3 separate regions of the Homo sapiens genome follow, and all the other regions are reported to be linked to region 1. The links are microRNA targets in miRTarBase. Many come from high-throughput screens and were not tested one by one. Region 1 holds a microRNA gene; each other region holds the end of a gene's coding sequence. Distances are from middle to middle.
Evidence for each region. The annotated mature microRNA hsa-miR-4298 reads CUGGGACAGGAGGAGGAGGCAG and lies in region 1 at 4,321-4,342, opposite strand. An mRNA with a match to its seed (bases 2 to 7 or 8) in the 3' UTR can be bound and repressed. Matches are read on the target gene's strand: a 7mer-m8 pairs with bases 2 to 8, a 7mer-A1 pairs with bases 2 to 7 and ends in A, and an 8mer does both.

Region 2: the mRNA of ATG9A is a reported target of hsa-miR-4298. Seed matches in the 3' UTR shown: 7mer-m8 at 1,669-1,675.
Region 3: miRTarBase lists P2RY2 as a target of hsa-miR-4298. The part of its 3' UTR that is shown has no 7-base or 8-base seed match.

What each region holds. Positions count from the first base shown.
Region 1 is chr11:1,855,185-1,863,272 of GRCh38, forward strand. MIR4298 (microRNA 4298) reads right to left here and starts at 4,352; the gene lies at 4,280-4,352. All of the region lies in intron 1 of LSP1 (lymphocyte specific protein 1), which reads left to right. RefSeq lists an enhancer at 1-271.
Region 2 is chr2:219,217,836-219,220,835 of GRCh38, forward strand. ATG9A (autophagy related 9A) reads right to left here. Exons shown (of 16, transcript NM_001077198.3): 15 at 2,912-3,000; 16 at 1,545-2,617. The coding sequence ends at 2,612. It overlaps ABCB6 (ATP binding cassette subfamily B member 6 (LAN blood group)), which reads right to left and starts at 1,123. Exons shown (of 19, transcript NM_005689.4): 1 at 290-1,123. The coding sequence starts at 838. RefSeq lists an enhancer at 340-1,207 and a silencer at 453-562.
Region 3 is chr11:73,234,791-73,237,790 of GRCh38, forward strand. P2RY2 (purinergic receptor P2Y2) reads left to right here. Exons shown (of 3, transcript NM_002564.4): 3 at 1-3,000. The coding sequence ends at 503. Among named protein-coding and RNA genes, the nearest start is that of P2RY2, 18 kb to the left of the region's middle. RefSeq lists an enhancer at 2,419-2,468.

The DNA of each region.
Region 1 (8,088 bases):
GGCTTCTCATTTCACAAGGTGACTAAGGGAACCGGGGAGTTTCCTGTCTAGGATGGGACAGAAGTCCCCTGCACCCAGGCAGGGATGTATGGCCTGGGAAGCCCCCACACGGGAGTCCCCAGGAAGGCCCAGGCTGGGCAGGCTCAGCTGGGGCTGGAGCAGTGGACAAGACAGCCCCCCGTGCATGTCACAGAGTGCCAGGTACGCCAGCCTGTGACGGTCTCAGGACATGCCCTCAACACTAGGTCCAGGGCAGGCCAAGCCCCTCCAGCTGGACAAGTGGGTCCAGCCCCTCAGACTGTCGCATGATGTGGCCCCTCCCCTCAGACTGCCCGGGACGGGGCCAGATTCCTCAGAACCACCCCTCCATGATGTGGTCTCTCAGATGCCCCCAGGACAGGACTGTCCTCTCCCACGAGGCCTCAGGCCAAAGAAGGTCCCCTGACCCTGGGCGGGGTCCAGGCTCCGCTTCGGCTACCAGCCAGGCTGGACTGCGGTTCCTCCACTCGGGGGCACTCCTGTCTCGCCCCGCTGTCCAGCAGACAGTCACTAGCTTGTCCTTGTCCCTTGGGGGCAGGGACGAGGATTTCACAGAGCTGCCTTGTGGCTCTGGGGGGACTCTCTGGTGACGCTGGGGGATGCCTGCCCTCTATAGCCCCCAAGAGCAAGGCTCTCCCCACACTGAGGAACTATCTGGCCTTGGAGGCCTTGAGGCGATGAGGACGGGGCGTCCTGGTCCACAGCTGGGGAGGGTCAGGTTGCCCTCTCAGACCTTGGGTTCGACATATCCAGATGTTGGAGCCCAGCTCTGCAGGGGTGTACCCTCCCTGGGGTCACACTGCATTTTTGGCTGCAGTGCCTGTCCTTGGCCCAGCTGCCCGGGGGTGCCCACCCGCCCAGGCGTGCCCACCCCATGTCCACACCTAGAAGGCAAGTCTGCCTGCCGCCACCCTGTCCCACAGACACCCTGGCTGCCCTCTCAGTCTGCCCCTGTGTAGCCCAGGCCCCCATCAGGATGACCCTACCCCCAGTCTGTTCCCCATGAGCGACCAGGCCGTGTCTCCCACGGAAAGAACCATTCACCAGCTACAGGCAAACTCCATGCCCCTGGGTGGCCATGCCAGGCCCTCCTGGCCTGGTTGAACTCACTTCCCATCCCACCAGCTTTCCCAGCTCTTCCCAGTTTTGGAAGGTGTCAGAGCCCTGGCACATGCCCCTCCTAGCATCACCCAACCGCCCTGCTCCTCTGCAGACCTTCAAAGGCCTGCCCAGCCCGCGGTGGGAGGCCGCTGCCCAGGGCTCTGGCAGCACCTGCCATGGACAGGGCCAGTCCTGGAGCCCCGCCTGGCCCATCGGAGCCTCCCTCGCTTCTCTGTGTGCTGAGCTGAGTTGGGAAGGGCAGGGATGACCTGAGGGGCTGCTCTGGCAGGGTTCCTTCTGGCCATCTGTCCCTGGAGACCCTCAGAGCTCCAGATTCTGAAGGAGGAAGGGGCTGGAGGCCCCCGGCAGCCCCCTGGAAGTCTTCATCTGAGCAGCAGGAGCCCATGGGATGGAACCCCCCAGGCAGCCAGGCCCTTGGGCAGCCCTCCCGCCCACCTGCCCTCCGAGCCAAGGCCAGGCACCACCTGGAGGATGTGCAATGCTCCACGCTGGGGCAGGTGGCCCTGAGAGCCCCCAGCGGTGCCCACGACTGCTCAGGAAAGAGGGCAGAGCTGGGGACAGTTGGGGAAGCCACCTCAGCCCCAGCCCTAGCCCCACAGGGGCTGCTGAGGGAGGTTAGGATTGAGGGCTAAGCCCTGGGGCTCCCTCCCTACACCTTCCTGTGGTCAAGACCTGATGTCTGGACCCAGGATCCCTGGGGAGGTCCCCTTCCTCCTGCCCTGGGTAAGGGGTCTGAGGCATCTGGAAGTTTCCCAGGGAAGCAGAAGGATGTCTTCTTCCTCGTGGGCTGGCAGGCGCTGCTGTCCACCGACACCCAGCTGGGCTGGTCGCACAAGTGGGAGCATCACAGGCCCCACCCCCGCTGATTCTGGAAGCCAGAATCCTTTCTTCCTGCGCCCCCTTCCTGGTTCCCTCGTGTCTCCTAAAACAATCCTGGAGCCACACAAGGGCAGTGCCAGGAGGGTCTGGGGTCCAGCTGGGACAGGCCCTGGCCGGTGACACCCTGGGGTGGCAGGATGGTGGGCCTCTGCTCCGCTACCCTACGGGCCAGCCTGTCTCCACCTCAGTTCCCTGAGAACGTGCCAGAGGGATGGGTGAGCCCTAGAGAAGAGGAGGGTGTTGGCAGTGGAAAGGGCCCAGTGGTCTCCCGCTCTGAGTCCTCAGCCTGGTGAGGGGTGGGGGCGTGAGCTCTGCCTTGCAGTCCCAGCCCCTGAGATCCCACTGCTGGGGCGGCGGGAGGGGGATGGGCTGCAAGGCCCCAGGGCTGGCCTTGCTTCGGCTGCTATAGGCCCTCGGAGTGCTTTCTGGATGAGTAAGCCGCACCCCTCTGAAGCCTCAGTTTCCCCATCTGCACACTCAGAATGTAGCCACTCAGACCAAGCGTTCACTCCATGCCAGTCTTTGCCAAGCTATTTATTTATTTATTTGAGACAGAGTCTCGCTCTGTTGCCCAGACTGTAGTGCAGTGACACAATCTCGGCTCACTGGAACCTCCGCCCTCCAGGTTCAAGAGATTCTCCCACCTCAGCCTCCTGAGTAGCTGGGATTACAGGCACCTGCCACTGCCCCCGGCTAATTTTTGTATTTTTAGTAGAGAAGAGGCTTTCACCATGTTGGCCAGGCTGGTCTTGAACTCCTGACCTCAGGTGATCCACCCGCCCCAGCCTCCCAAAGTCCTGGGATTACAAGCATGAACCACCGCGCCCTGCCTTTGCCAAGCTTTTTAAACCAAGGCTCTTGTTTCATCCCCCGGAGCTGTGAGGCAGGTCCCTGGAGCCTCCCATTTCACAGACGGAAACCGAGGCTCACAGGGGCCAAGTGCATTGTCCAAGGGCTGCTCCCTGCCTGGGGAGGGGCCTGAGTCCTTGCCCCTGTGGGGTTCGGGTGCTGAGGGCCCACAAGACCTGCGGGCACCAGGAGGGAGCTGGGCTGGGCTGCCCTTCCCGGGGTCTCTCTGACCCCACACCACACACCAGCCACTCTGGACTCAAAGGCTCCCAAGAGCACCAGAGCACTGCTCATGGCCCAAGCTCAGCAAGCACTTAAAGGGACCGTCCCGAAAAGCGGAACTGGGACCGGGCGCTGCAGGACCAGCAAGGTCCTCCACTTCCCTCCAGCCCAGCCCCGCCCAAATCCCAGCCCTCAGCATCTTTTTGGGGGCCACTAAAGACCTTCTGGGAGATGGCAGCCCAGGACCATAAGGCAATCGAAGAGGGCTTTCCACATGCGCTGAGGCAGACAGAACCAGGCCCTGGCTGTGGACGAGGCTGTATTGATACTTAGAAGAGAGGGAAGCGAGCGGGCTGGAGAGGCTCGGCCAGGGGGCAGCCCAGCAGGGCCCCTTCCCCAGGGTTAGACTCTCTACAGCCGGCCCAGCCCCCATCCCCTCCCCAACATCTAGGGACCTGAAAAGAGGTTGGAGGGGCTGCATGGGGGTGGGGTTGATAGGAGATTAGGGGATTGAGAAAGCCAGGCCTCCTAGCCGTGTCCCACCCAGCACGGCCCCACCAGTGCCAGACACAGGCAGACAAGGGAGGAGGGAGATGCTGAGCAGGGGTGGCAGGAGGAAAGCCCCTGGCCCTTTCTTGGGGCCAGGCAAGTCCTATCCTAACTCCATCTGCTAACTGCCTCCAAGCTGCTTGTGGGTTGTCGGGGAAGGGAGTTTGTGGCAGGGAGGGCCTCTGAGTCCCCTGTATCCCCCGGCAGGAGGAGGCAGGCACATGGGCCCCTGACCTCAGTGCTTGGAGCAGGGCCGCTCTGGTGGGGCATTTGTAGGTCACAGCATGAAGGGTTCCAGCATACTTCCTGGGTTCCCAGTTTCCCTGGGAGCAGTGGTATAGACGCAGGGGCCTCTACACACACCACACGCTCAGGGAGAGTGGCTGAGGTGTCCAGGATACTCTGTCCACTGGGGCAGGGGGTGGCTTCTAAGCCCAGTACCCTTCCCAGAGTCCCCAGTCTCCAGCTGCTCATGGGCTGCAGATGAGGATTCAAGGTTATGCAGGGGTCACTCTCCTGCTCCATCCCTGGCAGGTGGGACCTCACCTACTGCTTCTTTCTGCTCCAGAGAAGAGCACGTCCCCCTCATCTCAAAAGTGCCTGTGCTCCTCCTTCCTGAGTGGAACCTACACTTTTGACAGTTTGGTTTCTGAGGCAAGGCTGCCTCCTCCTCCTGTCCCAGGTACCTCCCCTCAGAAAAGCAATGGGACTTGGGATAGAAGGATCTAGCCAATTCGTTCCAGATGAATCTAGAAATAATCCTTTAGCCTTTCTCTTAGACCCAGTCCCAACCAAAATCTGAGCTTCATCACCACCACCCAGCACCCACCATTCACCACCCAGCCTCCAGCCCCCAGCCCCCAGCCCCCAGCCCCCAGCACCCATGACCCACCACCCTGCCCCCTACCCGTGGCTCTGGCCCATTCTCCTGCTGTCAGCAGTGCCTGCTTGAACAGAGGGCCACACTGAACAGATGCATGCTGCAAGCATTTGGAGGCTGCCTCCTCTTTAAATCACAGACATTTATCCACCAGGGATCACTCGGGAGCCAATGAGGCCACCACCCTGACCTCCCCTGTCCCCATGGGCTCTCTCAGTGCTCAAAGCACCTTTCACTGGGATGCTGCTCTGTGAACATACATTCGCAGGTATGTGTCGGGGATGATGAGAATGTGTCAATATGAAGACAGATCCCTGCCCCTGTAGCCCCTGCTTAGGCTCTATTGAGGTGTTCAGCCTCCTGGGCCATGGTGGTCTGCTTTATCCTTGGGCCATGAGCTTATGAACCATGTCTTAGTTGCATAAGAAAGGAAAAATAAAGATTAGAAAAGAATCAATTATGGAGAACAGTATGAATGAATGGAAAGATGAATGAAGAATGATAGGAAGTAGGAACAAATGGATGGATGGATGGATGGATAATTGAATGATGGATGGATGGATAATTGAATGATGGATGGATGGGTGGATGGATGGAGGGATGAGTGGATGGATAGGTGCATGGATCGATGGACAGGTGGGTGAATGGATGGGCAGATGGATGGGGTGGATGAATGAATGGGTTGGATGGACTCATGTATAAATAGAGTATAACTCATGCATAAATAGAAAGAATTATTTAGTAATTGATGAATGGATGAACAAATGAGCAGATGAACAAAAAATAGATGGATGGACAGAAGAACATCTGTATGTATATATGGATGTTTGGATGAAAGAACGAATGGATGGGTGGATAGATAAATGCAGATGTGATATTTAGAATATTTAACAAAGCATGTGGTACAAATATGAATCTACTGGAATGGGTGCTGATTATATATATTCCTATATTGAACTGTGTTGTACCTGTGCATATTGGCTGATCATCAGCCCAACAGCTAAATGAGCAAATGTACCAAAACAAAAGATGAGTGGATTTATGGATGAATGGATGATGGATGAATGGGTGTATAAATGGGTAAATGAATGTATTGATGGAAGGACACATGAGATGGAATTATGTATGGGTGGATGATTGGATGGCTGGAATATGGACATATAAATGATTGGAAAGATTAATAGAAGGATGTCAGGAGAAGTAGACATATGGATGGATATGGATAATAGATGAATAGATGGATACGTGGGTGGATATAACAAGAGATGAGTAGAAAGATAGATAGATAATGAATCAATAGACAATTGAATCCGTGCTGAGTAAACTATTAGAAAGACGGATGTGTGAGTAGACACTACTAAATCAGGAATTTTGCACTCTCTTCCAGGAACACTTCCTCCCATTTCTCTCATCTCTTTTCAAATAAGAAAAGAATTACTTCTTTCCATGAGGCTTTCATATATAAAGACCCAAGGAAAGAATTACTTATTTCCATGAGGCTATCATACGTAAAATATCAATCCCCTCCAGAACTCCATATGCCTTTACCCTGATTTATATTTTCTGTCATATTTTCCATCATCTGACCTTTATTTATTTATGTGTTTGTTCCCACACTTGAAACATGATCATCATAAGAGCAGGGACTTTGTTAATGCTGAATCCCCAGCACCTTCAAAGTGTCTGAATTCAGTACAGATTTATTGAATAAATATATGGAAGGATGGAGAGACAGATGGATAGACAGATGGATGAATGAATGGATGGATGGATAGATGGGTGGATGGATGGATGGGTGGATGGATAGATGCATGGATGAATGGATGGATAGATGGATAATGGATAGATAAATAGATGAATGGTTGGATGGATGGATGAATGGATGGGTAAATGGATGGATGGATAGGTGAATAGATGGATAAGTGAATGGATGGATGGATGGATAGATGGGTGGATGGGTGGATGGGTGGGTGGATGGATGGATGGATGGATGGATGGATGGATGGATGGATGGATTGGTGGATGAGTGGATGAGTGGATGGGTGGATGGATGGATGGGTGGATGGATAGATGGATGGATGAATAGATGGATGGGTGAATGGATGGATGGATGGATGGATTGATGAGTGGATGGATGGATGGGTGGATGGATAGATGGATGAATAGATGGATGGGTGAACGGATGGATGGATGGATGGATGGATGGATTGATGAGTGGATGGATGGGTGGATGGATAGATGGATGGATGAATAGATGGATGGGTGAATGGATGGGTGGATGGATGGATGAGTGGATGGATGGATGGATGAATGGATGGATGAATGGATGGATGAGTGGATGGGTGGATGGACGGATGCATGGATGAGTGGATAAATGGATGGATGAATAGATGGGTGGGTGGATGGGTAAAATGGATGGATGAACTGATGGATGAATGGAGAGATGGACAGAGAGATGGATGGATGAGTAGATGGATGGATGAGTGGGTGAATGGATGAGCGCACACATAACAGTGGAGTTGACATCAAATACTCTCCCATATTGTCCCTCACAGGACATGCTCTAGTTGTAAAACCATGAATCTTGGCCGCTACATGTAAATATCTGTTCTTGTCACTTCCCATCCATCAGCATTTCTGACAGATGATCATTCTCTAGTGACAGGGAAGTCCTGCCATTCCAAGGTAGCTCTTTTCCCTGTGGGAATATTCTTCCTTCTTTTGAACTAAAATATGCCTTGGCCACATTTCATTCCTGGCTGTCTGTGGCTGGGACTCCTCCAGAAGTTAAAACAGGAGGCAAGGAGGAAATAGGCAGGTTGAGGTGCAAATGAAGCACATGCTCACTGCCCCCCACCCCAGGTAATCTCACCTTACCTGGGTGATCTGTCCTCCCTGAGTGATCTCAGTTTCTCTGTGTGATCTTCCCTACCCCTGGTAATCTCACCTCCCCTGAGTGATTTAGCTTTCCCTGGGTGATCTCACCTCCCCTGGGTGACCTCACCTCCCCTGGGTGACCTTACCTCCCCTAGGTAATCTCGCCTCCCCTGGGTGATCTCACCTCCCCTGGGTGATCTCACCTCCCCCAGGTAATCTTGCCTCCTCTGGGTGACCTCCCCTCCCCTGGGTGAGCTCACTAAACATTTGTCCAACCTGAGGTCCAGCCCTGGCTACCATCCCTCCTGCTTACTCCAGAATCCTGTGGTCTCTGCAGCTTTGTGGATGCTGGGGATGTGGGGCCAACACCATGGTCTCTAGTGGACATTCCCTGCTTCCTCCTGGGTTGTGCCGGGGGAGGGGAGATGCTGTGGGCTCCTCTCTCCAGGACTGGCCCTGGGACCCAGTCTGGTGTGTATGTAGGGAGTGGGGACGGACTTCCTGACTCCCGCAGTCTCCATGGGGTAGCCCACCACCTGAGTCACCACAGCCCGGTCTATGGTCCCATGTGGAATTTTCCGACTGTTGCCGCCACCCCCGGCGTGCTGCCCTCCGCGGTGATTCACCCGCTTGCCCGTCTGCTCACAGCCTCACCCTTGCTTCCCTCAGTG
Region 2 (3,000 bases), not on the chromosome of region 1:
TCATTGAGGATAAAATTTCATTGTATTACTACTTATAATAGGGCCGGGGACTGGTGTCATGAACACATTCAGCACTTACAGGCTTAAAAAAAAAAAAAAAAGCAAAACCACAGTGACTCAGCAAAGACACACCCCACCAGCTGGCTATCAGCTCCCGGCAGGACTCAGCCCCTCCCTTCTCCCTTTGCTTAGAGGCATCCTAAAGCCTGGAAGCAGTGTGACTGGACATGCAGTGCTTTCTCCCAAGCCCGGCCAGCAGAGGCTTCCCCCTTCCCACAGAGTCCCTCACCTGCTGGCCCAAGTCTGCCCTTGCCCACCACCACTGTGGGCTGTTCCAAGACACCAGGGCCAAGTTCTCAGCTGCAAACGCCACAGTCCAGAGGAGCAGGAGACCAGGGCTGTGCCTGAACTTGATCCAGATGCCCATTGCCAGACGCTGCCGTGCCTGGCTCCGCTCCACGACAAGCAGCCACAGGCCACAGGCGCCGGCCAGACTCTCCAGCACGGAGGCCAGAAGTAGATAGCTTGGCAGTGGGGCCCCCCGGGCAGTGCCCACCCGGCCAGCCAGGCCGGCCAGGGGCAGCGCCGCCTGAAGTGTGGCCAGAAGCAGCTGCAGCACGTAGGGAGAGATGCGAGGGCCGGCCCCCCAAGACAGCGAATCAGCACCAGCGGGCCGCTCCCGGCGTCTGCAGGGAAGAGCCAGCACCAAGGCCAGAGTCCCCAGAGCCATCCGCGTCGAGGGCACGAGCGTGAAGAAGAAGCAGGGACTCAGGCCATCCTGCATCCAGGCCGGACCCACGGGCCCTTCGGCCTCGCAGTAGTTGCCCACAGTCACCATGGCAATGCGTGGACGCCGGCCGAGGCTGCGGGCACTGCGGGACCGGAGGCCGGGACTGGTCACTCGGAGAGGGGCGCGGACATCCGGGTGCCTTGGCTCACGTAGCCGCTGGGCGCCAAGCTGCGGGGGTCCCGGGAAGGGACGCACGTGGACCAGGCCTCACCGCCCACTCCCCTAGCGCACGCGCCGCCGCCACGCACTCACGCAGGGCACGTACGCCGTCTCAGCACGGCCCCGCTGGCTCTGGGCCCGGGACCCTCCTGCCAACTGCAGGCCCACGGGAATGCTCGGTGTTGGACTCGCACCGCGCTCCACGGCTGTAGCCCCGCCCACAGCCCCTACCCACGGCTCCCATTGGCCAAATGTCTCCGAGGGGGGAGCGGGGGGAATGGTGCAGGCAACGAATGCAAATTAGAGAAGCAGAGCCGGCTTGGTCACGTGCCCAGGGCGGGAAATCTGACGACCAGGCCGAGCTGGAAACCTCCACGGAATCGTGGCTCGGGGCTGGAAACAGACCTCACGGAATCCTGGCTCGGGGCAGGACACAGACCTCCACGGAACTGTGGGTCGGAAGCTGCCCTTCCGCCAGCCGCCTTGCTCAGCGTATCTGAGCGACGGCCTAAACATACTTTCTTCTAGACCCCGGCAGAGTCCCCATCCCATTTCTCTTGTTCCCAGGATTCTAGCCGCGCGAGACAACAAGAAGTCTGGTCAAACTCCCTTTTTATTAAGGGTTATCAAGCTGTACACGGTCCCTACCCTGCTCCGCTCCGAGTTCGGGCAGCGCAATTCACCACTCTCCCAAAGCCGGACCACAGCTGGGTGAGGGGTGGGACAGAGAGTAGGAGCAGTCCCAGCATGCAGTGCAGCAGCCCAAAGCCTCGGGCGAGGCATCGCCCTTCATCCCCCTTCAGGGCACAGCGAGATGCGGGCCAGAGCTCTTTTGCTGGGACGCACACAGCCAAGGTCACCCTCCAGCCCGGTCTGTCCCATGTGCAGGTGATGGGGGGTACGATAAGCAGCAATGAGGGCCCAGGAAGACCTCAGTCTCCTGGGGGCCCATCCTAAAAGATGGCAAGGGCAGCAAAGTATTTCCATCCTGCTCCTACAATTTAGAAACCTTCTTTTTTAGTGTCAAAATATAGCGTTGAGGGGAGCTGGACGCTAGGGTCTTCACCCTAACGCAAAGCAAAAGCCGAACGGAACGGGAGCAAGCGAACAGAACAGGAGCAAGCAGCACACACAGGCCAGTGATGTGCAAGAAGCGGAGAGAGGTGAGCCGGCTGCAGCACTGGGCGAGAACTGCGGGTGAGGTAAGGGCCACAGCCTGACCTGCTCATCTATTGAGGGGGCTAGGGAAGGTTGCAGGGGTTGAGGGTCCAGGCCCAACCTCCCCACTCCACAGTTGGCACAGGTTCTCCCTGCTTGGCAGCTTCTATCGTGGGCAGCCCTCTGGGGACTTGCAGGGGTAGGTGTAAAGGTGGCAGTACTGGGGCTGGGCTGGGGGCCAGTTTCTAGCACCACACTCTGAGCCAAGGGGGTCCTGGGGATGAGGCTAGAGTCCCGTGTGCCCTCGGTTCCTAGGCCCCAAATTCCTCTCCTGGGGCTGTGGCAAGCCCAGTGTTGGCACCTCCCTTGGCCAGGCACAGACACACAAACACCACACACGTGGGGCCAGGGAACACTCAGAGGAGCCGTCCCATGGCAGGCAGACGGGATGGCAGGGCAGCGGTGGCCTCCATCCTGGGCCACAGGAACCCTGCTCAGCCTTGTCTATACCTGTGGGGAGAAAGGGTTGGTAATGGAGATAGTCTTCAGCTTCTGGTTGATACCTGCTAGCCCCATAGAAACCTAGAGGTAAAGGGACAGGAAAGGTTGATTCCTGGGGAGGTAAGGTAAGGAAAAACCAAGCCCTGCAGAGCAGTTGAGAAAAGAAGGGGTAGTGTGTTTTGGAAGGGAGGGTACAGTATCTCTGTGTGGGGGTGGGGCATATCTTCCTTCCCCTGAAAAGCTGTTACCTCACCCTGGAAGTTACTATTTCTGGCAGTTTTTCCTAGGCCCCGGGGCCCTTACCTTGTGCACCTGAGGGGGTAGCTCATCCTCCGAGCCCTCTTCGGGCACGGGCTCAGGGTGCCTTGATGCCGACTGCCCATCTTCTGCCC
Region 3 (3,000 bases), 71 Mb from region 1:
TTGCCGTCATCCTTGTCTGTTACGTGCTCATGGCTCGGCGACTGCTAAAGCCAGCCTACGGGACCTCGGGCGGCCTGCCTAGGGCCAAGCGCAAGTCCGTGCGCACCATCGCCGTGGTGCTGGCTGTCTTCGCCCTCTGCTTCCTGCCATTCCACGTCACCCGCACCCTCTACTACTCCTTCCGCTCGCTGGACCTCAGCTGCCACACCCTCAACGCCATCAACATGGCCTACAAGGTTACCCGGCCGCTGGCCAGTGCTAACAGTTGCCTTGACCCCGTGCTCTACTTCCTGGCTGGGCAGAGGCTCGTACGCTTTGCCCGAGATGCCAAGCCACCCACTGGCCCCAGCCCTGCCACCCCGGCTCGCCGCAGGCTGGGCCTGCGCAGATCCGACAGAACTGACATGCAGAGGATAGAAGATGTGTTGGGCAGCAGTGAGGACTCTAGGCGGACAGAGTCCACGCCGGCTGGTAGCGAGAACACTAAGGACATTCGGCTGTAGGAGCAGAACACTTCAGCCTGTGCAGGTTTATATTGGGAAGCTGTAGAGGACCAGGACTTGTGCAGACGCCACAGTCTCCCCAGATATGGACCATCAGTGACTCATGCTGGATGACCCCATGCTCCGTCATTTGACAGGGGCTCAGGATATTCACTCTGTGGTCCAGAGTCAACTGTTCCCATAACCCCTAGTCATCGTTTGTGTGTATAAGTTGGGGGAATTAAGTTTCAAGAAAGGCAAGAGCTCAAGGTCAATGACACCCCTGGCCTGACTCCCATGCAAGTAGCTGGCTGTACTGCCAAGGTACCTAGGTTGGAGTCCAGCCTAATCAAGTCAAATGGAGAAACAGGCCCAGAGAGGAAGGTGGCTTACCAAGATCACATACCAGAGTCTGGAGCTGAGCTACCTGGGGTGGGGGCCAAGTCACAGGTTGGCCAGAAAACCCTGGTAAGTAATGAGGGCTGAGTTTGCACAGTGGTCTGGAATGGACTGGGTGCCACGGTGGACTTAGCTCTGAGGAGTACCCCCAGCCCAAGAGATGAACATCTGGGGACTAATATCATAGACCCATCTGGAGGCTCCCATGGGCTAGGAGCCAGTGTGAGGCTGTAACTTATACTAAAGGTTGTGTTGCCTGCTGAGCTGTGCCCTATTGTGTGGTCGGGGGATGAGGATATGGCAGGGAAGCTTTCACCAGCCACACAAGGGTCCTTTCTCCAATCCGTTCCCTTCTGCCACCTGCCTTCTCACTAGCTGTCTCAGGAGTAGTCTCATATCAGGGATCCTCTCTCCAGGCCCCAGGTCATCCCCCACTGTAAAGCCAGTTGGCTTCTGTGCCTGACTCTGTGCTGAGCACAGAGAAAAGTCAGGTGCAGTCCCAGTCCTTGAGATTTCCCAGTTTAGGTGATGGCCAGTCATGTGCTGGTAAATGTTAAGCCATTTAACTGGAGCTCCGATTTAACTGGGAACCCCTTCTTTGTAGAACTGCCCATTTCCATGGTGCAAAAACTCTTATGGCCAAATTCAAACTATAAACATGATGTCAACTTCCTTGTAAAATTCCTGAAAATTTAACAATTGGTTCTTGCAAGCAGGTACAAGTCACTCTAGCACACCACTGGATAATGCCGAGTGGCTGGGGCTGTGAGCCAGGGGGTCAGGGAAGGGTTCCTGGAGTGGGAGACTCCTGAGCTGTAGCTTCTGAGAAAAGCAGCTCACCGGAAGAACATCCACACACAGGATGCATCCCAGGCAAAGACATGGGGCAAGAGGGCAGGGTGTGCATGAGCCATAAGCAGGCTGGACAGCTGACTCCAGGCTCAAGGCAGGGTTGGGGCTGGGTCACAAGGAGGCCAAGTTAGGGCTCCCTCCTTGCCCTGACCCTGAGGCTTCCTTTGCACTGGGGGTAAATATGAAAGAGATTCACTCCTCCTCCTGTCCATCGTCTGCCTTCTGGGAAAATCCCAGAATGGCAGGGTGGTGCTCAGGCTGGGTCAGGACTTAGTATGGGGGAGATGGGTCTCACCTATGATAGGTTCTGAGTCTAGCCAGGACCACTCTGGGCTGACGTGTGGCGCTCAGCTGGACAGGGCCCCGCCCTAGCCTTTGGAAAGGGACAGGGCAAAGCTGACAGGCCTCACTCTTGATCTCAAGGACAGGGACTCCCTCCTCTCCCTCTGGGAGAGCCCTCGCCCTGTGGCCCACTCTGCCTGCCCCCTCTGACCTCTCCACCCTTCCCACTCTGCCTTGTGAAAGGCAGGACATCCCCAAAGCTTGCTGTATTTGGAGCCTGACTCCACAGCGCCCTCATGTGACAGAGACCCATCACAGACCATGACCCAAATGATTACTCTGTACTGTGCCAGGTGGGTGACCTGCCCAGAATAGTGTGAGCTATTCACCTCTCACCTTCTAGGTTCTATACTTCTGTTAATGTAGCCGATGTCCTTCTGAGTTTTTTTTTTCTTTTTGAGACGAAGTCTTGTTCTGTCACCCAGGCTGGAAGTGCAGTGCTGCGGTCTTGGCTCACTGCAACTCTCTGCCTCCCGGGTTCAAGCAATTCTCCTGCCTCAGTTTCCCAAGTAGCTGGGATTACAGGTATGCGCCACCACACCTGGCTAATTTTTGTATTTTTAATAGAGACAGGGTTTCGCCATGTTGGCCAGGCTGGTCTCAAACTCCTGACCTCAAGTGATCCACCTGCCTCAGCCTCCCAAAGTGCTGGGATTACAGGTATGAGCCACCGCACCCGGCCCCTCTTGAGCTTTCTTAATGATTGCCTGTTACAAACCACCCTTGAGCCTTTCCCACAGGCCCGAGCCACTCCACAAGGACACAGGAGGGGCTCGTTCACCATCTAATCCTGTGGCAGGCACAGGTGGGGGTGGATACTGGAGACCCTGGGTGAACCAGGGGCACCTCTGGAACCCAGTTGGACTGCCTGGCCCCTTGGTATGCACGTCCCACCTTGCTGCTCAGTGCCCAGGCCACTTGCCTT